Linked DNA regions of Homo sapiens: region 2 is linked to region 1. Evidence: fine-mapped expression QTL. A gene starts in region 1. The other region holds a variant in brackets. All regions are shown on one strand. Distances are from middle to middle.

The links. PIP is the estimated chance that this variant, and not a neighbour inherited with it, causes the effect.
Region 2: its variant is fine-mapped to the expression of NMNAT3 in sun-exposed skin (GTEx, PIP above 0.99). The same link has a PIP of 0.9 or more in unexposed skin.

What each region holds. Positions count from the first base shown.
Region 1 is chr3:139,669,074-139,684,324 of GRCh38, forward strand. NMNAT3 (nicotinamide nucleotide adenylyltransferase 3) reads right to left here and starts at 8,899. Exons shown (of 7, transcript NM_001401600.1): 1 at 8,632-8,899. RefSeq lists a silencer at 8,953-9,002.
Region 2 is chr3:139,639,861-139,655,111 of GRCh38, forward strand. All of the region lies in intron 1 of NMNAT3 (nicotinamide nucleotide adenylyltransferase 3), which reads right to left. Among named protein-coding and RNA genes, the nearest start is that of NMNAT3, 30 kb to the right of the region's middle. The variant T/C (reference allele first, on the strand shown) is at 8,423.

The DNA.
Region 1 (15,251 bases):
TCCAATAGACTTAATAAAGACATAGAGAGTGTTTCTAGAATCTGCATTATGCCCCAAATTTCTGCTGCTATTCCTCTTCTATGCATGGCGGAGAAAAGCATATAAAATGGACGGGGGCACTGGGCGCAGTGGCTCATGCCTGTAATCTCAGCACTTCGGGAGGCCAAGGCAGGCAGATCACTTGAGCCTTGGAGTTCAAAACCAGCCTGAACAATATGGTGAAACCCCATCTCTACAAGGTACAAAAAAAAATTAGCCAGGTGTGGTGGTGCATGCCTGTAGTCCCAGCTACTCCTGAGGCTGAGATGGGAGGACTGCTTGAACCTGGGAGGCGGAGGTTGAAGTGAGTGCCAAGATCATGCCACTGCATTCCAGCCTGGGCAACAGAGTGAGACCCTGTCTCAGAAAAAAAAAAAAAAAAAAAAAAAAGATTTGGGATCCACAAAACTATAGAGTGAATTAAGTTGAAATGTCAGCACAACCATAGAGTATGCCTCGTTTGTGAATAGATACTTTGATGAAGAGCTACTAAATCTTTAATTGGAGATGAAGTGTTTCTATATAAAGGCAATGACTACAAAATATTTATCATAGCACCTAAAGCCATAACTACAGAAATTTTCTGCCATCCTCTTGTATTAGTGAGTACAGCAAGTAAATCCAATATTAATATTAAAACATGGCACTGGAGATATAATTATGGATTAATACAAATAAAGTTAAATATTTTCTCCTAATGAAGTTTTCTTTTAATATCATCTTAATCTACCAGAAAAATAACAGGAATCATCAAGCTACAAGAGAGGAAAAAACATTGCCATAATAAAGATAAACCTTACACACTCAAGCCTTCCTTTAAAGTGTTGGGTCTTAAACTGTACAGTTGCAGAAAACTAGCATTCTGCCACTAAAATCAAATTTTGGTAGTCTATTCCAATTTACTAGGAAGAAATATGGTAATGTTTTTCTTATTTAAAGTTTTCCATCCATGATTTTTTTCTCAAACTTTTGGGGTTGGTTATACTTAATGCAGTCTTCAATGTAGTGTAACTGGGTCTGATTTAGCAGGGAATTGTGGACTTGGTTATCTTCAGTTTAGTACGCTGATAATGTTCATGGTGTTAAAGGGAAGAACAGTACAGCAGACACTGTCAGTGCCATGCCCTGAGCCCCAGGCCTCATCGTCTTAGAGCAAGCCAGCTTGACTTCCACTGACAGCATCTCTATCTCTTTGTCTCAGCAATGACTGACAGAAATGGTATGTGTATACCCAGCCCCCAGCCCCATGACGGGATAACTCTGAGATGGTTCTGCGCTGGCTCTGGAGATCCCCATCAGGATTAAAGCCCAGATGCCCCTGCTGGACATCTGCTTGATGGTACACTTCCCCGGCTAATTTCCCTACCTTTTGCTAGTGCTTCCTGGGGTCCACTTTCAAATAAACTACTCAGACTCAAGTCCTTGTCTTGTGACATGATTTCCTAATGTTTAGCCAATTGAATGAGTTTAATGCACTAGGCTTTGGCCAGCATTAGGTAGCAAAGAATACACGGATATAACGCCATCACAGTGAGAGTTGGCAGTACACACATAATATCCAGTTCCTGAGGTACTAGAATACAATGCCTGCAAGACAAGATGCCAGAATGATACAGGGCTACCCTAGGCAATTAGTAACTGTGTGTGTTGGGTTGTGGGGAGAGTTTGCTGAAATGTCACCAATAAGGGCTCTGAAGGCTGCAATTCCAAATTCCTCCTTCCTCCCACAGTACTGGGGACCAGGAGAGGCAATGGCCTTCTTTAACTTAAAAACCCTGAGAATTCAAGTCTACAGGGACAGGGTGAACACATCTGCAGGCCATTCAGCCAGGAACCCAGAGTGTATCTCTGGACTGGAAACATGGAAACAGGGAGCCAAACCTGGCTTTAACATTCTTTTTGATTGGATGATTTAATTCAGGATGAGGCCACAAAGGTAGTGGCCTAAAATTACAAACTGAAGAAAGATCATTGTTTAATTTGGCTGATTTTAAGATTTTAAAATAGTTATAGGAATAATAAAATAATATAGAAAGCTTGATATATGAAAAAGGTTATCCATAATTCCCTTTTTCATATGTAACTCTTGTCCCCTTAGAGGGTTCCCTTGAAGACTGTTTTCCTAAATATGTCTGTAATGTAACCGCATTCTGTTCCCAGAGCATGTTAAGGTTTCCCATGTGGCTAATCTTCATATTTCTAAGTACTACATAATACTCCATCAGCCTGTCGTTCTGTAATTTGTTCTCCTCCTATACTGTATATTCAGATCACTTCCAAGTTTTCACCATGGCAAATAATGGTGCAGAGAGCATTTTTATACAGTGGCTCTTTCTAATTTTCAGATTATTTTCTTAAAGCAGAATTTCAGAAGAAGCCAAAAGGTAGCAGCATTTCAGTGACACCTGAAACAGGCAGCTCCTATACTTTTATCATCGACGGTCCTTTGATTACTTACAAAACACAACATGAGTAACAGACAGTGGTATCCTTTCTCTCTCTCTCTCACACACACACACACACAAACATTAAGACAAGAATGATCAACGGCACCATATAAGTTACATAGAAGAAGGCCAGATGGGGAAATTAAAAGCAAAGCAGTCTTTGTTACTAAGTATAAGGTTTGTGCAATAAACCTATTACTGATCTTTAAAATGAAGATTTGAAAGTGAGTAATAATTCCAAGTTAGACTCCTACACACTAATTCATGTAACAGGCATTCTGTTCTAATGATCACTGGCTCACAGAGAAACTTCCAGCCTTCTAAAGGTTTCTCTTGACCTGACCTGGTGTGATTCCCTCATTGACACTGACACTCATTCACTTCCACCTGCCACTTATTGAGCCCAAATTCGGGTTGGTTTGCATCACATGTTTTCATCATTCTTTTCCTTTATGGTTGTAAACCTTTCAGCGAGCAGCCTGGCTGATATCAGGGCTGCTGATGGCAGTGGTTAGGATGCAATTAGGCTGAGCCATGCTTGTCAGCCTTGCTCCGTACTCTCCTCTTTCCAGAACACTGTGACAAGGGGGAAGGACCAGAATCAAGGCTCTAACCCCTACACACCTGCCTTTAATATGCTAACTCTGCTTCTGTAAGGCAGTTCCAACCTCATCCCCGGGCTCTGTCCTGCCTTGACACTTCATTTTTATAAGAGAAAGCAAAGAAAGGGGGGCGTACTGATGGAAGGGGGAAGGCAGGAAGAAGATTGGCTCTAATTTAAAACCATCTTAGGAGCTCTAAAAAGTTCCAGGTTGACTGATGGACACATTTACTCCTCAAAACCCTTTTCATAAATATCCACCACTTAACATGTACTTTCAAGAGGCATAAATACTGTCAGCGTGTCAGCCTTTATGAAAGGGAGATTTCCAGAACCACTTCTTTTCTCCATGGCTAAGAGCCACACAATTACAATCCTATTATAGCTGTACCTTGAGAATATAGCCCTTCCCCACCAGTCTGTGCAAGGCAGGCAAACTCACCCGACTAAGAGTAGCATGGGGGCCTTTTCAATCTCTGTGCAGTGATGCATCCTTCCTTTGCTGCAGAGAAGACGGCAGCTCATCTCTGGTGATAAGGTCTACATCTGAGACTGGTAGGGATTGGAGATGTATTTTGTCAACAGCTCTGGCCAAAGTAACTCTCTAATAATATTCAAGTATGGACAGAGAATGTTTCCTGAGGCTGTTTGGATCACATCTTATTTTGAACAGGTCTTTAGTGTGACTTTCTCCCTGTTCTCAGTGGAAATGAATGGGTTTCGAAGGCAGGCATGGTGCCCCTCTGGAGAACTGCTGGTTCCTCACGAAGGACTGTGCTGGCATGGCATGGCTCTGCATGGGTAGGATCACTGCCAGCTCACCCTGCCACAGCTGCACACAGATTGGTGGGCCCAGCTTTCCGGACAACAGCAGTCAGCAGTGCCCTTCTTTCCTCTCAGACAGCAGACCACTAGCCACAACATGATAAAATCTATGCTGGAGACTCAGCCTGGTGTGCCCAGGAGTATCAGAGAAGGAGGAAACAAATAGGCTCTCAGGTGGACTCTGTCACTCAGAAGGGAAAAGGCTCCAGTGCCCACGCCACTAGATTTACCCTCAGGTGAGCTGGATCCCTGTTTGCTGCTGCTACCCAAGATGAGATGTATGACGCTGAGAACTGGAGCACCCAACCAGACAACATCCGAGGAGGAGCTCTGGAAACTATAAAGGGGTAAGTGAATTGGATCACAGCATTATTCTCCCATTTGGAAGCTGAAGCACAGTTGTTTTTAAAAGTGTACATTCTCAATAGGATGACCTTGGCAGCATACACCACTGCTTACCAGGATTTATAGAAAAATATCATCCAGCGGTCTTCAAGGGTGTATATGAAAAAAGGAACATAAGCCTCCCTCCAACACTTTTGGCCCCTCTGTCTATAGTGATACTGACTATATTTCTCTATCTTTCTCCCTTCCACATGCGGCCCTGACACCAGCCTCCTCCTTCAGGAGAGTTAAGCCAGTTTAAAATGTGTTGCTATGTGTGTATGTGCTTAATTCTATTGTTAAATCTGTCTCATGATGTGTGCAGACTCCATGAGGGTCAGGACTATGTCATTTTGACTCACTGTTTGAATCCCCAGGACACTGCCTGAAGTATGTGTAGAAGAAAGAAAGGGAGGAAGGAATAGAGAGAGAGAGAGAGAAACAACGTGCCAGGCATGGTGCTAAGTACAGGGAACACTTGGTCCAAAGCTGTGGAAGTGCTCACAGCCAAGCAGAGGAGGTAATTCAGCGTGGCCAGAGAAGGGCATGCCGACAGGCACCCGCTGGTACTATGGGAAGGCTGAGGAGGGATTCAGGAAGGCTTCCCTGCAACAGAGTGTGCCTCTGCCGCTGCCCCAGGGATTCTGGATTTAGGGGCAGCTCTGGCCAGAGGCAGGGACAGCAGAGAGGCACAGGGATGAAGACCAGGATTTCACTGGGCAGGAAGGCAGCCCAGACACAGCACTTCTGGGTGGAAAGAGCAGACAGTGCTGACTTCCAGATGCATGGTCACCCTCATCCCAGGCACTTCCACCCAAAACCTATTACAGAGAATCTTAGATTTCCCTGGAGCTGATTTCTCAGATTCTCTCTAGCAATAGATTGCCTTTCTATTCCTAATTCCTAGAGTGGCACATGGGTCTATGTGTATGTGGGAGACACAATGATGAAGGAATCATGAGTCCACTGTGGTTTGTTAAATACCATCATGCAGAACTGCACAGCTAAACCAATGGGGCAGGAGCTGCCATCCTGAGGCCTGCCCCGCAAAATGGGATCTGTCCATCTTTACTGGGGAACCATGATAAACGAGCAAAGACAGACACTGGTGAGGACGAGCCACTTTATTTAAGAGCTTTGACAGCTCAAAGTGGTTTAACATAGATGTATGGAAGATTTATCGAGATGATAAAATACCTGAACTTGAAAGGCACACAAATTATAATTTTGCAGGTTTTTTTCTTTTTAAAATTTCACTTAGTCAAGTGCTTTAAGTAACGAATGAAATGCACATAAAGTTGATTTCATTTCACACAAGCTGTCTGGTTAGTGTCTGCAGAGTGCCTTTGCTTCCAGATGGGACTCAGTTCAGAATCCATGCCACCCTTCTGTGCCTAGGGCCTTCAGTTTCCTTACCACTGTGGAGATCATTGGGAAGATTAATAAATATAATAATAAGGCAGCCATTATTGACCGGGCACTTACCATACTGCATGTTGTATACTGAGGTCAGTGCTTCATATGCTTATCTTGCTTAATGCTCCTAACAGCCCTATGAATTAGCTACAGTGATTCTCATTTTACAGATGCAAAAACAGGTTTAGAGCACTTTGGTGATACATGGGAAAGTCACACGAGCAATTTTATCTGACTACAAGACTATGGTGTTCACCACTAAGCTGCGACATACATGAAAATATTTGGCCCTCAGCAAATGCTTAAATACATTAGTCATCTTTCCTTACCTTCGTATTCCTTTTAAACATACACACACACACACACACACACACACACGTGCACATATACCATGAAAAATCTGCCTCTTGGGTTTATGTTCATTTATTTGTTCATTACTGATTCATGCCTTTTTGGCCTGGTACTCTGCTGGGTGAGAAGTTTGCAAAATTAGACTCCATAGCTCCCAGGTCAAAGAGCCAGAACGGTCTCAGGCAGTTACCATGCTCAAAGGGATGGCAAGGGTCTGCAAGGTGCAGTGGCAGCCCCCTGCAGGGAACCCCCACTCAGCCATCAGTTAGAGACACATCATCAAAAAGACCATTTTAGACCCTTTTCAACCCTAGTTTTCTCCAACTTTTGCTACGCTTTCTTTGGCCTGAGTCTACAAAGACACTGGGGCTTTCTGGGGCTTTCTGACAGTGCAGCTGCCCAGGAGGCCCTTTATCATGCAGAACACCCCTCTCTGCTGCCAGGCTCTTGCTTTATGGCAAAACCACTGCAACAGATAATCTAACCCCCTGACTAATCACCCTGCACAATTCCTCATACTGCCTCCACTCCTATCCCTCTCCCGCCTCTGCCCTGTCTTGTTTCATCAATTTTTGTCCAGACTAAGGAACGATATCAATAGTTATAGTAGTAGTATCCTCCCACATGTCAGGTACTGCTCTATGTATTTTAGGTCCTCATTAAATCCCCATAATAACCTTCTGAGGTAGACACTACAACTATGTATATTTTAGTTCATTCAGGAGAAGGAGAGGGTGGGAGTTAATATTTCTTCAGGGCCAACGATATGCTAAGCACCTGTTAAGCCTGAGCAATCCTCACGACTCACAAGGTGAGTGAGCTGCCCAGGGTCAGTCACAGAGCTGAGAAGTGCCAGGTCTGTGACCACCAAGCCTGGAGCTTCCCTTCTCATGGGCTGGCATCCTGCAGTGGTCTGAGAGGGGAAAAGAGAGGCTGCACAATGGCTGCTCTCTCTCCTCTTCCCTCCAACACCCTCTGTTAACATCATACCTGTTCTTTTTTACCACTCCCCACAAATGGTGCCAGACTCCTGCCTCATCTGGGTTCCCCTACTCTCTGGGCCTCTCAGTTGGTTTTCATGGAGCACTTTCTTTGTCTACAACAATGTTGTGAACAGAGCCAAATAAGAAATTGGGATCATTTGAGCCAATAAAATACAGTGAGCAGCTGACAGATGTTTCCTGAAACCTAAAATGCTCTCCCAAATCCATGGGGTCTCAAGGTCTGACACGTCCTTAGCAAGGTCCCAGCATAGTTGCTGCTTCTGGGAAGTCTTCTGTCCAGTTTTAAGAGGTGACACCAAAAGCTGAGAACCACCAATGAAATTCAAGAAGTAACTGATGCTCAGTGGAGCTGTGTGAACCATACCTTCAGGGGCTCCTGGGTGGCTTTCTGAGAAAAACAGAGAAGCTTTCCCCTGCAAGGCCAGTGGGTAAGAACCCTTTCTCTGGGTTGTGCCAGGGTGGAACTGTCACTTTATTTCACCTGGCCCACCGGACATGGGCTCCAGGAGGGCAGGGCCCCTGTCTGATTTCTCTCTGAATCCTCAGAGCCAGGGTAAAGTGGGCGCCAGTTAAATGTTTCAAGAATGAACAACTAAACCAGTCATCATTTTAGAGAACAGGCTGTTTGAGAGATTCTACTCAGAACCACTTATTTGATAGAGGAAGAAACAGGACTCAAGGAGAGGGGAAGTGACTTTGCTGAGAGGCAGGCACACTGTGTTTAGTCCAGAACAACATCAAGCCTTGGATGTTTAGTGCAGAGTAACATCCAGCACCCATCACGCAGTGCTAAGTCATTTACATTCACCATTTCCATTCTCAATGGGTAGAACAATCCCATTTTACAGAGGAGAACGTTAAGGTTAAGGAACTTGCTTTCCCCCCAGCTCTCTGCAGGCCAGCCCCACCAACCCTCCTTTCCTCAAGCCACATTCTCTCCCAACAAAATGAGTTTGCTCTGTTGTTCCCCGCCCGGGAATTCTCTAAAGTTTTAGTTCCAGCAGCCTTTGTAGCTGGGGGCCCTGATAAAATCTCTCCAGCACCCTAGAATTTCAATCTTCATAGCTCTGACCACAGTTTTAACGTTCACACTTGTTTGCATAGATATCCATTTGCTGTCGGTCTCCCCCCACTGGACTGTGAGCTGCACGGGGGAGGGCACCACATTTTTTGGCCTGCTACTGTAACCCCAGCACTTAGCCCAGCAGCGGACACTGAGTGGAACACGTTAAGTATTTGTTAGACACTGTGCTTATATTTTTAACCTTTGAGTGCACGAGTGCTAAAGGTGGGATCCGAACCCACGTCTCCGGGACTCTGGTCATAGCCAAAGGGGAGCTGGGGGTTAGGTTGACACGCTGCAGCGAGAACCGCCGGCGCGCAGAGGCAGCGCGGAGCTGTCCCCCCGGTTCGCGCCACCCCGGATGGCTCCGCACTCCGCCGCCACCTGTCGCCCCAGCGGGGACTCCCAGGACTCAGTTAGGGGCCAGGAGTCACGTGGGCCCGGGCATTCAGCCGCGATCCAGGTCCTAGTGGGCTGACGAGGGGCCCACGCTGCGCTTACCTGCTATTTGCAGGGCTCAGCAACGGCGCTCGGCGAGTCTCGGGGGACTGCGGGGGACTAGGGGACCTGCTGGGCCTAGCAGGGGCTGTCGGTCAGCGCGCGGCCCGGCGCCCGAGGTCCGAGAGGGAAACGACGTTTGGTCTCGGGACTCAAGGCTGCCTCCGGCCCGGGCAGCCTCAGGTCTAGATCCCCTAGTACCTGAGCTGGAGGCGGGGCCAAGGCGAACTTGACCTTGCGCTCCCTTAGCGGCCCCGGGCAGATGGAGTCTGAGGGAAACAGATCTGCGCCCCGCCCCTTCGCTGGGGCGGGCCCTAAGGAGACCCGGCCCTGGCCCCGCCCAGGGTCCTAAGCCCCGCCCTCTCCCCTGCCCCCGCCCCCGCCCGCTGGCTCCCAACCGCCAAGGCTCTTTTGTGTTGCGTGCGTGTTTGCTTTTTTATTCTCCTGTTTTGTATTCTGTTTGTTTTGTATTTTTATTTAATTTTCTTTTAAAAAAATACATGAAAGTAACGCCCACTTACTTATTAGAAAATAAAATTATCTAGATTTGCTTATAATGAAAGCAACAGGCCACTTCTCCCTCCCATCACAGCTCTTTTTAACAATTCCTCCGTTAATTTCTTCTAGTGGTCACCCGCTTGTCGCAAAAAAAAAATAAATAAATAAAATAAAAAAATAAAAAAAGAAACTTACATAGCGATTTCTTGATTTATCCATTGACTTTCTGCCATGTTATATGAGGATCTACTCTCTTACTGCGCGGCCCCTGTTTCCTTCTGACAAATTTACACCTCTATTCTCAAGCCCTGCCCTGGTAAACGCCAGACCTCAAAGCAGGGAAGGATTTCTGGGGCCTGAAGCATACACAGTTGTGTGGGGAGAAGGAAGGGAGGGCTGCTTAAGAAAGAGAAGACAGAATTAGGGCTTGCCAGTGAACATTTATTTGGAATGAGAAAATAAATCTTAACAGAATCCTGGGGTCTTAGAGATTGGGGTCCCTATCCCCTAAAACCTTCTTAGGAAATTTAGGTCCCAAATTTGCTTCCCTAACGCAGTCTGGCTTCCTCTGCCCACCCAGAACTCTCCATAAGCCCCCAGGGCTCATGGGAGCCTTGCAGAGAGAGGCCTTGAAGGACAAGATTCACTAGATTCTGCCAATACAGTTTCCTAATGGAGTGAATTGGAGTGTGCGAAAAAGAGAGACATCAAGGATGATGTCAAGGTTTTTTGATTGCTGTACACTTAATTTCCAGCGTTTCCTAGACACAGGAACACAACCTCATCTTAGTATGGAGAGTGTTTTATAAGCCTGTCCACATCACCAGAGCCTCACGGTGCACCCATGAAGTTGGCTGGACGGGTGCACTGTCCACAGTTTTAGGAGGCCCATAAATTTGTCCCTTGTGTATTAGCACCGGGGGCATGCAACTTGCACCCAATAAGTACCCAGGTAAATGGTACTTCCCCACTCAGTCTGAAGACACAGTGTCCGTGCCCTCTCGGATCCCTTTTCTCTTACCTGTGGTGTAAAATGTGGCTCCAGAAGGTGATCTTGGACAAGTCTCTTTACTTCCCAAGCCTCACTTTCCTTTCGTATAATGGGAGGTAACAACCCCTACCGCACTGAGTTTTGGGGAGGATTAAGTGGCTTAACATCTTTGGATATTCTTTAATTGATAAGTCAGCTTATTTCCCAGCAGGGTGGGAGGCTCATGAGAAAGCTTAGGGATTTCTGAGAATCTTGTGTAGCATGTAGTACCACAGGTTGATTAGAGGCCTTCGATTAAAATCGTGGGCTGAAGAGTCATTCTGGGTCAGGGCCCTAGGCCAGGGAGGGAGAAGCTGCACACAGAGAGCAGAGAAGAGGCTGGGCAATGACTTCCTCATGCAAGGGAAGCTTTCTCTGCCTGAGGTAGTGAAGACTAAAGCTTGGTCTAGGAGGAAGCCTGGTTTCCTAGGCAAGAAAAAAGGAATGAATTAATGGCATTCACAGCAACTGGATGAGATTGGAGAGTGTTATTCTAAGTGAAGTAACTCGGGAATGGAAAACCAAACATGGTATATTCTCATAAGTGGGAGCTATGCTATGAGGATGCAAAGACATAAGAATGACACAGTGGACTTTGGGGACTCAGAGGGGAAGAATGGGAAGGGAGTGAGAGATAAAAGACTACAAATTGGGTTCAGTGTATACTGCTCGGGTGATGGGTATACCAAAATCTTACAAATCTCCTCTAAGGAACTTACTCATGTAACCAAATACCACCAGTTCCCTAATAACCTATGGAAATAAAAATATTTTTTTAAAAAAGTAGCGTCCCCTTGTGCTGGAAGGTAAGAACCTCATATAATAGCCAAGCTTTACCTAACCTAAGCGGTGAAGACGCAATGGCTGAGAAATCCATTTTGGAGAGGCAACTACCTCCTAATTTTTTAGAAGGAGGAATACCTAAATGCAAGTCTTGTATTTGCTTAAGCTCACAAAAAGACTACTGGATTATGGGTATAATGGGAATAATATTTTCAGATCTCTCCTTTATTGGTAAGTTTCATTTCTCCTGGATCCTATCTGCCATTATGGCTCAAGGAAGGTGGCCACCTAATGCCACCTCAGGAAGGAGGAAGATTTTACATAGAGGATGTCTCAGCTTGAGTGCCTCAGAACCAGATCCTGAGGTAAGAATTAATGCAAGTAGTTATTTGAGAGGTACATGGAACACCAGCAGAGTAATGAAGAAGCAATACAGGGAAGAAAAGGGGAGCTCAATAAAAGATTAAGCCAGCTACTATAATAGATGTTTAGGGCTTAATCCTAGGGGAAAACCCTAGAAAACTGTGTGAAGAGCATGCCTTGGAATCATCCCACCCAAGGCTGCAGGAGACAGGTCTCTACAGGGAAAAAAGCTGGAACTGACCACTTAGCTCATATTTTTGAACATTTAAAACATTATTTCTAGGCATAAAAATGTCATTACTAAAATGAGATCTGGCTACAGTATAACACTATTCTGCAGTTTCCTTCTATCACTTAACAGTGTGCTGATGAAGTTTCAGGAGGAACTCTTTGGGCAGTAAGCAATGTGCAGATGGCTGAGAGTCACAGTCCTGGGATGGACCTGAGGCCATTCTGGAAAGCTTGCTTGTGGATGGATTGTGATGAGGCCGTAGACTGGGGCAGCCTCTGTATTTGGATGAACCTATTCTAACCTTGACTTCTGACCTGTCGCTGAGGAAAAGCAAGCTTTGAGTGGGTAAAAGTAAAATGTAAAAGGGAGACTGGTGGACTTTTCAAATGACCAAAGAGGGCAAACTTTTCAGTCACTGCAACTACTTCAGCAGATGGGCATTTTCTTTTCTTTTCTTTGAGATGAAATTTCACTTTTGTAGCCCAGGCTGGAGGGCAGTGGCGTGCAACCTCCGCCTCCCAGGTTCAAGTGATTTTCCTGCCTCAGCTTCCCAAGTAGCTGGGATTACAAGCGCTCGCCACCACGCCCAGCTAATGTTTGTATTTTTAGAAGAGACAAGGTTTCACCATGTTGGCCAGGCTGGTCCTGACCTCAGGTGATCCACCCGCCTTGGCCTCCTAAAGTGCTGGGATTACAGGCATGAGCCACCGTGCCCGGCCAGGTGTTTTCTTACAAACAGTGAACAGATAGTGCTCATGCCAGATCTTTCTTATACAAGCATCAAAGCAGGTCCTCACTAGAAAACCTTCACTTTGTCAATTTGGCTTCATGGCTATACTTACTATTGAGCTAAAATTATCCTTTTAAAACGTGAATCAGTTTATAACACTCCTCTGCTCAAAAGTTTCCAGTGGCTTCCACCACAATTAGGGTAAAATCTCAAGTCCTCCCCCTGGTGTGCAAGGCCCTCAAGGATCTGCCCTGACAAGTGCTCCAGCTGTCAGCCATTCTCATCTCTGGTTTCCTTGACTCTGTTGCTGTTCCTTGGACACACTGGGCCTATTTGCACCTAGAACCATGGTGCTGCTGTCCTCATTGACCTAAATAACACACCGCCCACTCTTAGGATAACTTTCCCAATTCATTAGCTTTCTAGTAGACAGCTCCACTTAACAAACAAAAATACTCCCATACAACCCCTTTTGTAGTACTTACTACCTATCATTGGAGGATATTTTGCTCATTATCTGTCTCCCTCGCAGAAGTGTAGGGCCCAAGAGTGGCTGAATCTTTATACATTTTGTTCCCTGATATGTCCTCACACCCACAACAGTGCCTAGCACCTGATATTCAATAAATATCTGTTGAATGAATGAATGCATTGAATTGAGCAAATGAAAAATATATTCAGTACACATACAGATAAAAATATTCTAGAATGCAGACTTTCAACTAATCTTGGTTAGGTTCCTCTCAAACTGAAAAAAATTGTTAGAACACAGAAAAATAAAATGAAATGGCTGAGCTGTATTATGTAATCTGATTTATAATTACAGGTTGAGTATTAGACTGAGAACTTTTGCTTTTTTATATTTCACCCAATGTCTATGTTAAATGTTTAAGCAAAGGTTAGCTTGAGAGGCTACATACTCATTTAAAAGTAGTAAAAAGAAACAAGGTTCTCCTAGTCACTTTAATAATTCAGAATAGTATTCTGTGGCTTCTGTTGGCATTTGAGACCCCAAGATGGCAACTGGTTACCTGAAAATAAAGGCCTTGATCAAATATTTAACATCTCACTTATTTTCATTTTCTGCATATTTTGTATTCCTGATTCTCACTTTTTTTTTACCCATTCTGCAGTCACACAATTCACACACTGAAGTTAATAGAAATGTTCCATGGATTATTAAATGCAGCTAAGCAATGAGTTTTTGCTAGAAAATAAGGCCAAACTGGGGCCACTTTGCTATTCTAACAAAGTAATTTTTCCTTGAAGGTACAGACTATGAATTTACAGAAGCCTCTACCCTTTATTCTGAAGTTTTGTAAGGCAAATACATTGCTGCAGGAGAGAATTTAAAGTGGAAAACAGATTCCCCCTGAAAACATGTTTTATGGTGGCACAATTAAGAAGTCTTATAATCAAGAACAGTTGAAAGCACAGAATTATAAGTGGACCTTTATAATTATGGCAAGAAGACACTAAATAGTGCCTGTTTGCTAATGAAAACATTGCACTCTGGTGCCAAAAGCAGTGGAGTGGGTTTTGGTTGGTGCTTACCTGGGTTAATTGCCCAAGGAGTGCTCCAGTAGCAGCATCCCAGTGCTGTCAGCTGCCGTTCCTAATGGAGCTTTTATATTTTACCCCTATTGCTAAAACCCTAATCCAGGCTTTGATGTCCATTTGGGCCTACTTGGTACAAAGAGGGCCTTCTGGAGGTGGTCAAAGTCATAATGGAAAAGCCTTTAGGAATAACCCATCCTTTTGTGATCAGTAGAGAGTACCCAGAGAGGTTAGAGGATTTTCTCGAGATCACGCCTGACCAGTGGTGGGTTTGGAGTATTAGTCAGGACTTTTTTGTTAGAAGCAATTGAAACAGTCTCTGTGACCCAGTAGATGGGAGTTTATTGGCAGGATTGGGCCTTCAGAACTTACAGAAAGTTTGGAGATCCAGGCTTAGAAACGGATAGGGAGAAAGTAGCTCTGAAAAGCTAGAAAGTGAAAACCCTGGGAATAATCTCTTAGTAGAAATGGTCTGGTCAGGAAGCTGCTGCAGAGATAGATGATTAAACTCTAGACACTTTCTATGCCCTTGTTTCACTTGCACACTAGCCAAAGTCTTGGGAGAGGCCCTCAGATTGGCCAACATTAGTATACACTCTCCTATTTGTCCTGGGAAAGGTGTTGGCAAACTCCTTCAACTGCAGAAGTTGAAAGGAAAGCATCTGAATTTACTCTCCTACTAAGACTCTCATAGTGGAGAGGGGCAATTTCCCAAACGGAAACCCAAAGAATGCTGTTAGGAGGAAGGCAGGGATGCAGAGAAGCTAGAGTACAATGAAGCCCCAATTCAGTTTAGAGCGGTAGACTCCTGTGCAGCTAGAGATGGCCACAAGAAGCAAACAGGAGTCCACCTGGGATTAGTAGGAAGATTTTGCTTTGCAAGCTTTCTGTCCCTCTCCTCCTTTTTCCTTTTGGCTTAGAATGTGGGTATAAGCCCAGAGGCCAAGGAGCCATTATGAATCTTAGAAGTGAACTCCAAGCGTGAACTCCAAAGCCACCTACTAAAGATGGCTGAATGAATGAATAGGAGTCTGACATGTTAAATACACCGTGGAGCTGCTGTACCAGCTCTGAACTGCCTACTTCCAGCCTTCTTATTTTATAAGAAAATTAAAAAACCTATCTGGCCACACCACTGTAGTTATCAGTAACTTTCAGTCTAGCACAGTCTGATAATACAAATTAGTCCTAGGATTCTGGTCTCTCAATCTCCTATGCAGCACCATTCCTGTTCTGCTTACAAAGACATGGTTCCTGCCTTCAAGGAGCTTATGGTTGAATTGAGGTTATATTAGTCTGGGTTCTTCAGGGAAACAGAACCAATAGGATGGATAGATAGATAGATGATAGATAGATAGATAGATAGACGAGGACATTTATTAAGGGAATTAGCTCACATAATTATGGAGGCTAAGAAATCCCACATCTGC
Region 2 (15,251 bases), 29 kb before region 1:
AAATACCACAGAGGGACAGACAATTGAGAAGAGAAAGATGCTGAGGAGATACTAGAGGTCATGAGGCCCTGACCACACTCCTTCCATATATAATACAATTTATTTCCATCAGAAAGAAACTCAGATAAAAGTGACTGTCTACATGGCCACAGTCCAGCTGTCTTCACATGGAAACAGAATCAGAAGAACCCCTTCCCAGTGAGGTGGGACAGTGCATGGTGGGACTCTGTAGTCCCATGCACCAGCAGGACAGGTTTTCTGAAACTGTGCATGCATAAGGGTCCTAGGAACATGCTAGTAGAAATGGTACCATGACCATCAGTATGGGTGGTGGATTCCAGTCAACAGAAGGAGGTCACACAGAAGGGGCTAGTGTCCCAGTGTCTGCCCTGTGCCTGAGTGGGCAAAAGCAGCCTGATTGGGGGAAAACTCAGGAGATCAGCCAGGCTGCTTTCTGGTTTTAAGAAATGAAGATTCTGGTAAAGGAGAAAGAAAAATTGCTGAGGAATATAGGGTGACAGTTGTCTCCCCTATGCTACTCAGCCTTGTCCTTAAGTTCTCACATCCTCTTAGGACCAGCCCTAAAATGTAATCTAAAAATCCTAATAAAAAAGGCCACTTTGTTTTAGCTTGTTTGTTCATTCATTCACTCAAAAAGAAAACAAGCTGCCATTACTACCAACTTCCTCAAGGTAATAGGATGACAATAGGATCCTGAAATATCTGGGAAGGGTGGAAACTTGGCCAGGCTCTCCATGAAGGCTGAACAGGCCAGTGGATGCTCTATGAATCACAGTTGGGAGGTGCAGGCAAGAGACATGATGCCCAAGAAGAGCTGTTCACCTGATACTTTCACTGGGTACAACATAACCAAGTCCAGAGCCATTCTCTCCAATTTCGTGTAATATAACTTCCTCCTAGAAATTATAAGCCAAGCAGCCCAGCTTCTCTTCTTTACTGAGCTATGAGCAGACTGCCATGGTGATAAGCAGATAACTGCAAATCTAGGCAGGGATCTATGAAGTCAGAGCAGGCCTGAGTCAGATTTGAGGCTGTGATTAATTAAAAATTTTAACTGAGTTCATCCAACATATATTTAATGGTATGCATAATCGCTATTGTGTTGGCTAGAAATTAGGCCAGAACGGTAGGCAGTTCATAAGTAACAACTGTAGTCTCTATGATTCTTAAGCTGACAAACTGTCTTGTTTCTTCCTGCACTTATTGCTTCAGAATCCACAACTACAACTGGCAGAACATGTCCTGTCCATGTTCCCACCAAAGCCTATGCATAGGTTAACAAGTGTCAAGAAGCTTGACACATTTGCCAGCAAGTTATACACAAACCTCCAGCTAACCCCATACCAGGCTCCCTCCCACAAAATGAGGACTTGTTGATTTTCCTTACTGTGTGTGAATTTAAAAATCAGCAAAAGCTTAATTTGCTTCTGTGATTTCCAAAGAACTAACGTATTGATCTGCTATGCTACGTCTTAGCTGATGGCTCTTTTTCTAGGCCATTGTGATACATGTTGATCTACGAGTGTGCATGCCACAAGCACAGCATTTTCTATAGTTGGAACAGAGAGGCTGTCCAGAGGATAGGAAAGCAAGGGCCTGGCCCCAGGGGACCAGTCATATCCCTGGGCCTCAAGGTCAACAGGCAGAGCTAGAATATAGTTAGGCCAGAGGAACTAAAGAACACTCCATTCTCAGAGGTTGGGATAAAGCCCAAGGAGGACATATGAAGGTAACAACCCCAAAATTAAGGCAGTGAAGCTTCAGCCCACAGACATCCAACTCATGAGAATTCACCTGTATGTGCTGGACTCAATAAATAAAATAATAATTTACATATAAAATAAAATGTAGGCTGACATGAAATGATTTACGCTGTCTTCCATGAGCAGATGTTCCAGAGCAAGTGTGATATAGCCCAGGAGAATCTGCTGGTCCTTCTTGCAGCACAGCAATTCCCTTTTCTTCTGGCTAACAAACACCAATTTTATTTTGCTTCAGGGGATAAGAGGCATGAGAACCATAGCACCACACCTACCATGGAAGTCTCAAGCTCTTTGCTAGTGATTGGTTAGGCATGGGCATGTGATCTAGTTCTGGCCAATGAGATGCAAAAGAAAGTACCTGGAGATCAGGAAATATTCTCCCAGATGATGAAAGAGCACTGATGAGAAAGCCCCTTTTCTGTCTCTTCTTTCCCTCCCTCCCCTGGACACTGTGGTGTAGGGATATGATGCTTGGGGCTGCTACAGCCCTCCTAGGACTACAAAGGGAAGGCCTAGAGAACTATATTAACCTTGTGCAGTATTACTTTTCTCCAGACTTATTATTATATAAACTGCTAAAATATCTTTATTGCTAAAGCGCCTGCTGATCAGGTGTTCAGTGGCGTGTGGCCCAAAGCATCCAAAGAGATATACCTCAAGAGGCCTCAGTTCTTGCCTTTCTCTAATGGTGTGTACACTTTCATGGGCCAAATGTGATCCTAGTGTGCAAAGATAAGTATCTTCTGCATAATGTGGTCTCTAAAATCAAGGAAGCAACTTCATGTGGGTTGCAGTTGAAGAGAGACTGCACCTGTGCCTGAGGAGGCCTTGGTGTATGGGGCCTAGGAAAGGATGATATGTTGAGCCCCACTGTGGCGCTGCCCTGGGAACTTTTCAGAAACACTTTTGAATGAACATTATTTTTGGTTGGCACTGTGACCTGAGAACTTAACCTCAGGGTAAGCTGCCTCCAGAACCTCTTAACAGACCCCTCTGGACTGCATCCAGTGTCCCATGGGCACCATGGGGACATTGATGAGGGCAGCCCTGCATCTGGTAGAATGGTCTCCACATTCTTGATGGCTCCACAGTGGGGCTTCCTTCATTGTGGTGTCCTGACTCCCCCTCTTCAGAGGGTGAGGAAGCCCTGCTTTTCCTGCATTAGTGCTGGCTGCTTCCCTCCTGTAATTTATGGTCTGACACAGCCTGGTGACTTAAAAAACCTGAATGTACCCTGCACTCTGACACCTCCATGCCTTTGATCCTGCTGGGCCCTCTGCCTAGAATGTCCTTTCCATCCATTTCTGTCTATTAAATTTTGCCCCCCAACACTCAGCCTATATAAGGCTGTCCATAAAAGGTCTTCTTTACTCAACAACAAAAACAAACAACCCAATTAAAAAGTGGGCAAAGGACTTGAGTAGACATTTCTTTAAAGAAAACATATGAATGGCCAAGAAGCACATGAAAAGATTCTCAACATCCCTAATAACTAGGGAAATAAATTCAAAACCACAATGAGAAACCACGTCCTGTTAGAATGACTGTTAACTGAAAAATAGAAAATACCAAGTGTTGCAAGAATGTGGAGAAATGGGAACCCCCGTGCATTGTTGGTGGGAATGTAAAATGCTGCAGCTGCTATAGAAAACAGTATGGAGGTTCCTTAAAAGATTAAAATAGAATTGCCATATGATCCAGGAATTCCACTTCTAAGTATATACTCAAAAGAATTAAAAACAGTGATACAAACAGATATTTGTACACCCATATTCACAGCAGCATTATTCACAGTAGCCAGAAGGTGGAAGGAAACCAAGTGTCCATTAACGGAAGAATGGATCAACAAAATGAATGGAAAAACAAAATATACGTTGCATGTATATAATAAAATATTATTTAGCCTTACAAGGAAGGCAATTCTGACATATGCTACCATATAGATGAATCTTAAGGACATCATGCTAAGTAAAAATAAGCCAGTCACAAAAGAACAACTATTGAATAATTCCACTTACATGAGGTACCTACAACAGTTAAATTAATAAGATAAAGTAGAATGGCGGTGCCGGGGGTGGGAGGAGAGGGGGAAGGAACACTTATTGTTTAATAGGTATAGACTTTTAGTTTTGCGAGGTAAGTTCTGAAGATTGCTTGCACAACAACATCAATGCATTTATTACACACTTAAAAATGGTGAAGATGGTAAATTTTATATTATGTGTATTTTATCACAATTAAACATTTAAAATTAAAGGTCTCCTTGTTAAGCCTTCTCTGATGCCAGGCTTCAATGCCATTGCATTGCTTGTCAACCTCTGCCTTGATTCCTTGTTTTCTGTTCTATCAGGATTGTCTTGAGATTTACCCAGTTGCCTATACCAAGAGAATCACACATAAATAGTACCAGAGATCTGATAGAACTATATTCCTAACATCAATCCCATCTCATCCCATCTAGGGCATTTCAATTATGTAAGCCAACAAATACCCTTTTTATCATTAAGTCAATTTTAGTTGGTGTGACAGCTGCAACCAACATCAACCTAATTGATAACACATTTGGCCTGAAATAAAAGAACACTAACAATAAGGAAAAGACCTCTGAGATTTCTAGGGAATAGGAAAAAATTCACAAAAGAATGCAAATAAGACTGGCATGCATCTGACCTCTTATTTGCAACACTGCATGCAAAAATACAATGAACAATACCAGCATACTGAGAGAAAACAACTTTAAATCTAGACCATCATTTAAGTACAGGAATAGAATAAATACACTTTAAAATATGAAAGGACCCAAAGTTTACCACTCAGTCACTCTAAGAAGTTCTTTGAGGATGTGTTCCAGCAAAACAAGGAAGAAAAACAACCTAAGTAGAGGTAATTTAACCCTGGAGAAAGGTGAACCTAGAATGATAGTTGTATAGGCTGAGGAGTAAGAGCTGAGGGCAGAGTGTGAAAATGTGGAGCTCTAAGAAAAAAGGACCATAAATAACATGGTCCAAAAATAATGTAAATTAAAATGGGACATAATTTTAACTCCTTGATGGAATATGAGAAAAAAGTTAATTTGACTCCCATATTAGGAATTTCTCTTTGAGTGATCCAGGGACACTTGACCCAGGAGTGAACACATACGTGGTCATAATAATGTAAATCCTATTTAATGGTGTTCAACTTTTAGAGTCAATCTAGTGAAAAGACACAGAAGGCTTGTAATCACAGAATAGAAAGGTAATGTTATCAACATTGGCAATGTAAGAATACAGCTCGCGGCCGGGAGTGGTGGCTCACACCTGTAATCCCAGTACTTTGGGAGGCCGAGGTGGATGGATCATGAGGTCAGGAGTTCGAGACTAGCCTGAACAAAATGGTGAGACCTCATCTCTACTAAAAATACTAAAATTAGCTGGGTGTGGTGGCACACGCCTGTAATCCCAGCTACTCAGGAGGCTGAGGCAGGAGAATCGCTTGAACCTGGGAGGCAGAGTTTGCAGTGAGCTGAGATCATGCCACTGCACTCCAGCCTGGGTGACAGAGTGAGACTCCATCTCAAAAAAGAAAAAAAGAAAAATACAGCTACCAGAAGCAGTAGTTGGAGAATGATGGGAAGGACAGCAAAAGCACCAATAGTTTCCTCTCACCTCGTGGAGAGTCTAGATACTGATTAAAGTTGATGAATGAGAGGCACAGATTTGTTGTGAATAACAAATGTGGGGGAAAATAATGCCTTAGACAAAACAGGGCCTAAACTTGTCTCTCATAAAATGAAGATGAGGAAGATAGGCAGTTTAGGGTTAGGGCAGCAGCTCTGATGTCACCAATTTGCCAGGATCCCTCTAGATTTTTTTCTCTGTTATTCTTAGAACATGACTTCCAGCTACCCTCAAGATTATCTCATGGTCGCATGACCGCTGTTGCAGCTCCAGCCATCATACCTGTGCTCCAGGTAAGAAGAAGAAAGAGAGGAGAAGGGTAAAGGGAACCTACCTGCTGAGTCAGTCCCCTTTATAAGGAGTTTTCCTACCCAACAATTTCTGCTTACATCTCACTGGCCAGAACACTGTAACAAGGCAAACTATCACAAGGAAAACTGAGGAGTATAGTTTTTTTTGATGGCACATTGTTGCTCTCAACAAAATTGGGTTTGTTTTAATAAGGAAGAAGGGAGAAACAGATATTGGATAGGCAAACTGGCCATTTGTGACTCAAGCGATAAAAATGTATTATTCAAGTAAAAATGTATCCAATTAAAGAATAAACATTGTAATAGAATCATCAAAAGTGAGAGGAAAGAGGAAGGGTAGGGTGCAGAGAATATAAATGAGTTAAATCTTTATTTTTTCATAATGGGACTCAGTGGCATACAATTTAAAGTTGCTTTTAACTTCCAAAATAAAGACTCAAAAGGCTAAAGCAACTTGCCTTTGGGATGTAGGTGGGGTGGGGGCAGTAGGGACAGAGCTGCAACTTTTCATTGAATGCTCTTCTATACTACTTGAGTTTTAAAAAACCATGTGCAGATTTGGTTGTGATTTAAAAGTATCAGTGTTTAGTGTTATGTTGAGAAGCCAAGCACCACTATGTTTCCTTTACAATCTGGTTCTGTGGTGGACATTTTGGTATGTTTTTAAACCACCATCACTGGCTTAGAAAGTGACAAAACTTAGCCATGGTCTGGGATTTATTTTACTTCTTTCAATTGATTTGTTATCTTTTAAACTTTAGCCATTCACATTCAATAGTTTTTTATAAGACAGTCTGTGGCAGATGCATTCCCCCTGTTTCAGGTGGGGCAGTCCACGTAGGCCCCATCCTCTGTCTGAAATGAGGCAACCAACATCTCCCCACAATCATTCCCCTGAGCCACTCCCATTTGCCCACAGACCTCTCTGCAGGGAAGTATGTTCTCTACCTGCCTGGTCTGCACTCTCAAATCACTGTCCTAATGTCTCTATAATATATTAACAGGCAATGGCCAAAGGGAGTTCTGCTGAAATAGGCAGCAGTTTGGGCCATTTTGGACTAAATCCTAGAATGCACATGATAATGCTGAGCGATGCAGTTTAATTTATGAGCATGCAGGCCTGCTATGAAATTGGGAAATGGAGGTATTAGACATTAGCATTCACATGGCAAGGGGAGGGCCAAGTCCAAAACCGTAATAGGCTTTTTGCAGGGAGGACTGAAGAGTTTGAAGCAGGAGACATAATGTCAGTTAAATGTACGCTCACGAACCTTATCCTTGTATTTGAATGCTGCTAAATGCCTAAGCAGTGTGCACTTCTCCTGGCCTTATGCCCTTAATATTGCCTAGCACAATTCTTTATTTTGAACAGGAGTGGAACACCTGTATGCACATCTGGGAAGATTTAAAAAATGTATGGCATGGGTTTGGTTTGATCTGCAGGAAAGAAGGTATAATAGATAGCTTCTCAATTTCCTTCTAGCTAGGGCATATAAACTTTCATACAGCTAAATATTTCCAAATTGAAAAATGAAGATGGGCACGTTTGTAATTTCACTCATTACAGTTGTGCATGCAATTCATGCCACACAGTCTCCAATTTAAGAAGCTTGTAAGCCAGAGATTTTCTGTCTGACCTTGACTCTGGCACTTCACCTTTCTAGCTAAGTTTTCAATGTACAGAGCAAAATAACATCTATTTCTGCCTCCCTTATGAATAAAAATACATTCTCCCAAATGGTTCAAAGGAAATATCAAATGTGCCCCAGCAGTAAAATATATTGGAAAGGAGGTCAACAACTCCATCAAACTAGGTTGAATAATGTCCCCCAAAGATGTCAGGTCCTAATCCCTAGAACCTGTAAATGTTACTTTACTTGGAAAAAGGGTCATTGCAGATGTGATTAAGAATCTTGAGAAGAGGGAGTGCTAAATGCAATCACATGTATCCTTATAAAAGGGAGGTAAGGGGAGTTTTGACACACAGAGAGGCCATTTGAAGATGGAAGAGGGAAATTTGAAGATGCTGGCCTTGAAGTTTGGAGGGGTGCAGTGACAAGACAAGGAATGCTGGCAGCCACCAGAACCTGGACTCAGCAAGGAACAAATTTCTCCCTTGAGCCTCTGAACTGAATGCAGCCCTGCTGATGCCTTGGTTTTGGCTCAGGGATACTGATTTCGAACTTTTGGCCTCCAAAATTGTGAGAAAATAAATTTCCTTTGTTTTAAACTACCAAGTTTATGGTAATTTGTTACAGCAGCCACAGAAAACTAATACACTCACAGACACGTTGGAAGGAAGAGTTTCAGTTTGTACAAAAGCTATCCCCCAGATTCTATGGTTCTTTGATGATATTTGGCTGAATTCAACTTCCTGCCTGCAGCAAGTGGAATAGGAGAGGGTTGAATGCAAGTGTAGTGATATGGTTTGGCTGTGGTCCCCACCCACATCTTATCTTGAATTGTAATCACCACATGTTGAGGGAGGGATCTGGTGGGAGGTGAGTGGATCCTGGGGGGGTTTTCCCTACGTTGTCCTTGTGATAGTGGGAGAGTTCTCACAAGATCTGATCATTTAAAAGTGGCTGTTTCCTCTGTGTTCTCTCTCACCTGCTGCCATGTAAGACGTGCCTTGCTTCCCCTTTGCCTTCTGCCATGATTGTAAGTT[T/C]CCTGAGGCCTCCTCAGCCATGTGGAGCTGTGAGTCAATTAAACCCCTTTTCTTTATAAATTACCCAGTCTCAGGTATTCTTTATAGCAGTGTGAAAATGGACTGATATATGTAGGTTAAGAAAAGCAGGCAGCCAACTCCCAGTTCTGGGCAGCGTCCCCTCCTGAAGCAGGAGGCTGAAGGCATGAGAAAAAAATGCTTAGTTCTTAAAGCAAACATGTGAACAGATTAAGTATGAAGGGGCAGGTAATTAGAGGGGAACCAAGGATTTAAGAAACTTTCTATAAATTAACCTCATAGTTTCGATAGGGATGTGTAGGCATGTACATGTGTTGGAGAAACATATCTTCAAACAAATAGTTTAATTATTAATAAACATGGCCAGATACCTGCAAACATATGTCATCAGACTGTCCTCTGAAGGTTTATCTGCAATAGTGAAAAATTAGAGACCCCACTGTCTACCAACAAGGGAATGGTTACATTCCATGTAATACTATGCAGCTATTAAAAAGAGTGACGTACTTCTACATATACCGATGTGGGAGATTATTGAGTAAATACTGGTAAAAAAATGTAAGTTGCAGACAATATTATAGTATTTTCTCACATGGTTTAAACAAAGCAATCTGTGTTATAATATACAGAAACTATATATATGTACACCTAGATATGTTTATGAATTTGTTGGATGGGTACACATCAAATAAGAAGTCATTACTTTCAAAGGAAGGAGTAGGGTTGTTGAGGGGGTGGTAAGAAGAGTGGACAGACTTGGGCTTTATTAGTATTACTTTATACTAATGCACTTTTTCCCTAAGCATGTATTCTTTTTTGTAATTTTAGGAATCAAAAAAGATGAAAATGCAATAAAGATACACTATGAGAACCTTGTTTTGAATGATGTCTGGCAAACAGTGGCGACCCTCAGTAATTGTGTGCTCAGTGAAGGGCTATGCAGGAGATGGTCTTTAAAGATTGCCTGTGGTTTCTGGAAGTTTCCTGTAACCCAGCTAATGTTGCAGGATGGCAAGCAAAGAAAACAAACAAACAAACAAACAAACAAAAAAACTGGCTTTTACACCAAACTCCCTGGTGGTCTTCCATGTTTTTATTTAAAAAAAGAAAAAAAAGACACACAGTAAGTAGCCAAAGTCTGAGGCAAGTGCGTCTTTTGTCTCTTCTACAAGAGTGGGGCAAAGTCACCATTCATTGACTCAGTTTCACACAAAAGCCAAGGGAATCTGTCTTTTGAACACTTTCCTTCTGAAAAATTCTATATGATGATGCTTCCAAAGGTTGTTTTACCTCCTGGAAGGGCAGCTTCTCCCCAGTGAGCAGTCAGTTCCTGCACGGTTAGCTATTGTACGCAGCCCTCCTAGTGTTTGTGAGTTGCACACCAGGGAGGGGGGCACTATACCTTTGAAAAGGACACCCCTAGCCTCACTCCTCTGAGTGCACCCCAAAACACACCCAAACCACGCTTCATCACATACAAAAGGAGAACTCTTTGATCAAAAGGGTCCCACCTTACTTGCCAATTTGAAACACTGTTTTGGATTAATGCAGTCAGGCTGACAAACTGCACACCCCAAAGGCATTAATACAGCTAGGAGAAACATGCATTGACTTCACAACATTCAATTTAGGGGCCATGAAGAGATGAATGGGAGTGTGTCTCAAGACCCCAAAGCAAAGATGTGATTTCTGGACAACAAGAAACCAGGAGCCCACTTGCCTTTTGGATAAACAAAAGCAAGGGCATGGGGTAACTTCCATCTCAAACACAGACTGCATAGGGGCAGTGCTTTACAGGTGACAGGTCTCTACAAATACTTCTTAAGCGATGGCTCTTACTGCAATTACTGCTTTTTGCTGAATGAAAGGAACCAATCCCTCTCTCTTCTCCATATAATATGAAATGTTTATTTTTTCAAGACATATTTCTCCAAGATTGGCCACAAATCATAAAAAGTGTTGACATTTTATGACTCCTTATTACAAATTTCAGGAAAGATTTTCATCTTCTGCATTTTAAAGATACTGTTACAAAAATACATAGATTGGGAGTTGGATTTTTCCTTAGGCAGAGGGAATGCTCTATCTGGAAGGCTTATGCTTAACCAAAATATTTAACTTTGTTGGTTTTGTGCTCCCATTTGCAGAATGTTAACATGTGGTCTAAACCCCCTGTGTTATAATTGAAGAAACTCACTTGTAGTTGAGTACTGGAGAGGTGATGTTGCTTATCCAAGGTTATACAGTAAGTTAATAACAGAGCTAGAGTCAGAGCTCTGGACTCAGGGCTGAGATTTCTATCACACTGTGACAGTGCTTTATAAACCAAGCTCTTTGGCTGTGGAGACTTTTAGGTTTTACCTGAGGAATGCATCCTGACATATAACCCTCATCCCTCGGCCTAATGAGATTGACACTCTGGGACAAATGTGGAAGATGCAGGAGATCCCTTCTGTGAAAGCGATAAATTCAGAGAAATCTAAAGCTGAAAAGGACCTGGAGCAATTCTCTACTCCATTTCCCTTCCTCGAGGCAGAAGTTGCTGACATCATGCCAAGGGAGAAGTATTTATCTTTCTAAAACTCTTCAGGGAAGATTCATAACTTCTCTTACAAAAAGGAATATCTGATTTTCTCTGAACAGTAGGATCCAAGAAGTAATCAAAGAAAACCACCACATCATTTATAAAATAAAAAATATAAAATCTTCCTTACTTTGATACCTCAGAAGTGATTATTTAAAATAACTTTCTAATTTAACCCAATATGAACATTTCTATTGTAAAAGGAAAATGTGTTGGAAAATAAGAAGAGCATGGAGTTGGCATGACATGTTAACCATAATTTTTGTAAGAATTGGTAAGAAGTAAGAGACCCACTCAGGCCTGTTTGTGTGAAGAACTTTGGTAGAAAGTATAATATATAAATACCCGCACAGCATAAAAACTCATGGATTAGAGACTAAATAATGGCTTCCATTATATGATTTTCATTTTAAGTTTCCCAAGTCTCCATTTTTTTTTGCAAAGTAGTTTCTGTATTAGGCCTTAGCTCAAGAAGGTACATTTCTAACTAATCTGAATGGAAAAATAACAGACTAAAAACTCCACCAATGATTCCATATATATTCATGCCAAATGATTCAAAAGCTAGAGGTTATTCTGAGAGGGGAAGGCTGCCTAACATCTGTGATACTAAGAGAAGAGAAGCTATGCTTTATCTGCAGACAATACTGCTGACCCACTGCCAATGACTTTGAACTGCCTCTCCATCAGACATGATGAGATTCCAGAATCCTGAAAACCAAAGGGTGTATCTCAAAGGTAGCTGCTGGAATTAAGGTGGCCCACATCTGTGGTACAGCTCAGGCTGTGTGCAGAGCTGGCAGGTCTGAGGGCAGAGCGAATCCCTAGACTCCTGGTCTCAGGGTCCCAGGCTCCGGGCAAGGGTGCAAAATGGCCTCCTTAATTACTTCCCCTACCCTATCCCACCCCCTTAATGGCCTATTAAAGCTTCTCCCAGCCATAACTCAGTGCTCCTGCTCCAACCATTTCCTGCCTTCTCTGCTATTCCAAAGTCAGTGTTCCTCTGAATGCTCCATGCTCCCTGCCCTGGAGGAGGGAAACTGACAGCCTGGGGACCTAAGTCCTCCCTTCCTCACTGAGCAGCATATCTGGAGCCCACTCCTTGATCTGTGTCCAGCCCTCACTGTTCCACCCAGCTTCAGGCCTGCCAGAGAAAATTCTAGGCCCTTGTCTAGAGGCCCCCAAAGCCTAGGCTGGAGGTGATGCTGGGAGGAAGCCATGCCTGGGGAAGACCATCGTGCCCTGAGTCCTACCCTCAGCCAGCCAGTGCCCAGGCCTGGCATGGCATTCCAGAAGATTCACAGCTTCACTGCCCTGCAGCAGCCCGGGGCTGTAATGTCCCCTTACATTTTGTGGGTACCCAGATGATCAACATCACTGTGTGTAAGGGGACTCAGAAGTGAGGTTAAATGGCTCCGGGTGAACAATCCAAGGAAAGATAAAGAATAAGCATTTGCACTGACTAATATTTCCAACCATTTAAGGGGCACACATATTTCAATTAGATGCTATTACTCCACCTTTGCAGATGAGGAAACTGGGACTTAGAGAACTGAACTTGTTTGCCCAAGATTGCACAGCAAGGAGGAGTGAGCTGAGATGAGATTCGACCCCACCCTGCCAGGTGTTCCAGGTGTCTCTGCTGAGCTGTGTAGCATGGCCCCTCAGGACCTGGGTATGAGCAAGAGCAGCCTATGGGGGGCAACAGCACTTCTCAGTGGGCCCAAGAGAGGCCCTTGTGAGGACTTTACTACATTGACTCCCTGGTTCCCAACAGCAATGTTTTTAAGTGAAATTGCAAAATTTTCAAAACCAAATTACATCCACTTTAATTTTGAAAGCAAAAGCAAACAGATGTCCTGCAGCCTCTTCCCCTGGGAGAGGGTATTGAGATCCAATAAACCACGCATCTTCTCTTCCTCGAGAGAAGCTGGGAATCACCACAGAACCAAATGCAGCTCTGCCTCTGTGAGAGCAAACAGTTTTGGCTGTACTTCTAGAAGTCCAGAAGCAAAAGTGACCAGAGAAAAGCAGGTATGCGCCTCACCAGTGAGAGGCACATTCACCTAAGAGAGGATTAAAAAGATTCAAAGTACAAAATGGGTTTCATGATAAGTATTTTACTCTCATTTTATTGAAATAATGGAGTTAAAATGTTAAAGGAAAGGATAGATTGGCAGCGGGGGCAGGGGTGTTGGTGGTGCCATAAGTTGCAGTTTATGGAGTCATTGCTTCATAAATGTCACTGTATTGGTGTTATTCTATCATTTTCTGTGCCTACTCCATTTTATAAAATTACTTATGTTTGGATTAAATGGCTCCTAAGAGGTCATCCTGTAAATAACATGGGACTAAGGTGTGTGTGTGTTTCTTAATTCAAATGCAAAATATCTTACACCTCTCAATGTGCCATGGAATAATGCAAAAGGTGATATTGTTAAAACCCCCATAATTTAAAAAAAAACTGTTCTATTTAAAAATAATGGAAATCAGGAGTTATAAAATGCTTATGTGAGTTGAAGCCATTATTTTCTGAGCAATCAAACAGATCATTTATCAGCAAAACCTACTCTTTCCTTTTATACTCATAGCTCATTAGTTTATATAATATTTAATAAAGTTATTTGACTATATTAGCAAATACAGCCAGCACTGACACTTTTGGAAACAAACAGCTGACTGCTAAGTGTAGTAGCCACGTGTTGGGGTCAGGAGGATGCCCGAGAGGGCTCAGTTTGTTGCCTTCAAGGTCTCTGTGCCTAGCTCTGTCCCAGCTGGGGCATAAGCCAGGTTTACGAAATTCTGGCTGAATGGATAAATGAGCTTCCCCACAGCCCCACCCTATTCCAGCCCCAGAAACTCCTCAAGCAAACCGTAGCTGCCTAGACTTTCTTCCCCTACTTCCATTCACTCACTGCTTGAGTCACAGTCAGCAACACGTTGTAACTCGAACCTGGGGCGTGGCAGCATTTCAGAGCAAGGTAGAAGGGACCAGAGACATTTTCTAGTTTAGCCTCATCATTCCGTAGATCAGCAGGTTGGAGACAAGCTATGAGATCTGGTCAAGGGCAAATAGTGCCCTCTGACCAGCGCTTCTGCTCCCCCCTCTTGTCCCTCAGTGTCCAGGAGCTAGTAGAGTACAGAGCACACACAGTCTTACACTGGGACAGCTCCCAAAACCATCATGCTCACTATGTCTTATGAATGGGATCCTTCAGGCAGGATTCGCACTTAGCTCCCCTTTACTTCCCTGTGGATAGGAGCATGAGAGGTACCTGATTAGCTGAAAAGCTAAGCATTTGGCAATTAATCTGCAGATAAAAATAAAGTCAACTTCAAACCAGGGGTCTGATTTAAATGTAAACAGTGTGTCCCTACTGATCCATGAGCCTGGAACTGACTCAGAATAAGGATGGTGATGAAAAACTAAGCCACTGGCAGACATGCCCATTCACTAGCAGGCCTGTGGGCCCACCAGGGAGAGAGAGAGCCAGACGCTGGGTTACAAAGCAAGGGCAAAAGTAAGAAAACTTGCTTTCTGAGCTCACAACTGATTCATTAATGAAACTGACCTCCTTCAGATGCCGAAAGCATTTGTGTGCCCTTCAGTACTTATAACAATATCACAAAAATAAGATGCAAAGCAGCAAACACATTGCTGTCCTGATTATGGTACAGAGGCAAAACTATTATGTTTCTAGGGCCAATTTTGCCTTTGATGTGAAAAATGGGCAGGACTAACTCATGATCCAACCTAAGCCTATCACAAAAATGAACACAGACACAGAGGACCCAAGCAGCCCAACTGGCTGTGGAATGCATTATAGGATTTATGTTATCAATGACTCTATGTCATAACTGTGCTTTTCAAAGACAAACTTTAAAATGGTTCCAAAGTCCTTGACTGCCATTAATAATCCCTTCATTCAGCAAACATCAAACAGCAGCTATGAGTCAGGCAGTATGCCAGAACAAGGGAGACAAAGACACACCACAGTCATGCTTAGATGCTCACCTGCCTGTGCTGGTGGGAGGTAGAAAGGCTAAGGACGGTCACAGCCCAGGGTGGTAAGAGCTGGCACAAATGGAAACACAGGGAGCCTAGGTGGGCAGAGGAGAGCCCTAGGCTCGGTCAGGTTAAGAGGGGGATGCTAAGAAGAAGTAACAGATGTTTTGAGTTTTGAAGGATGACTACGAGTTAGGCAGGTAAATGAGTTGGGAAGAGAA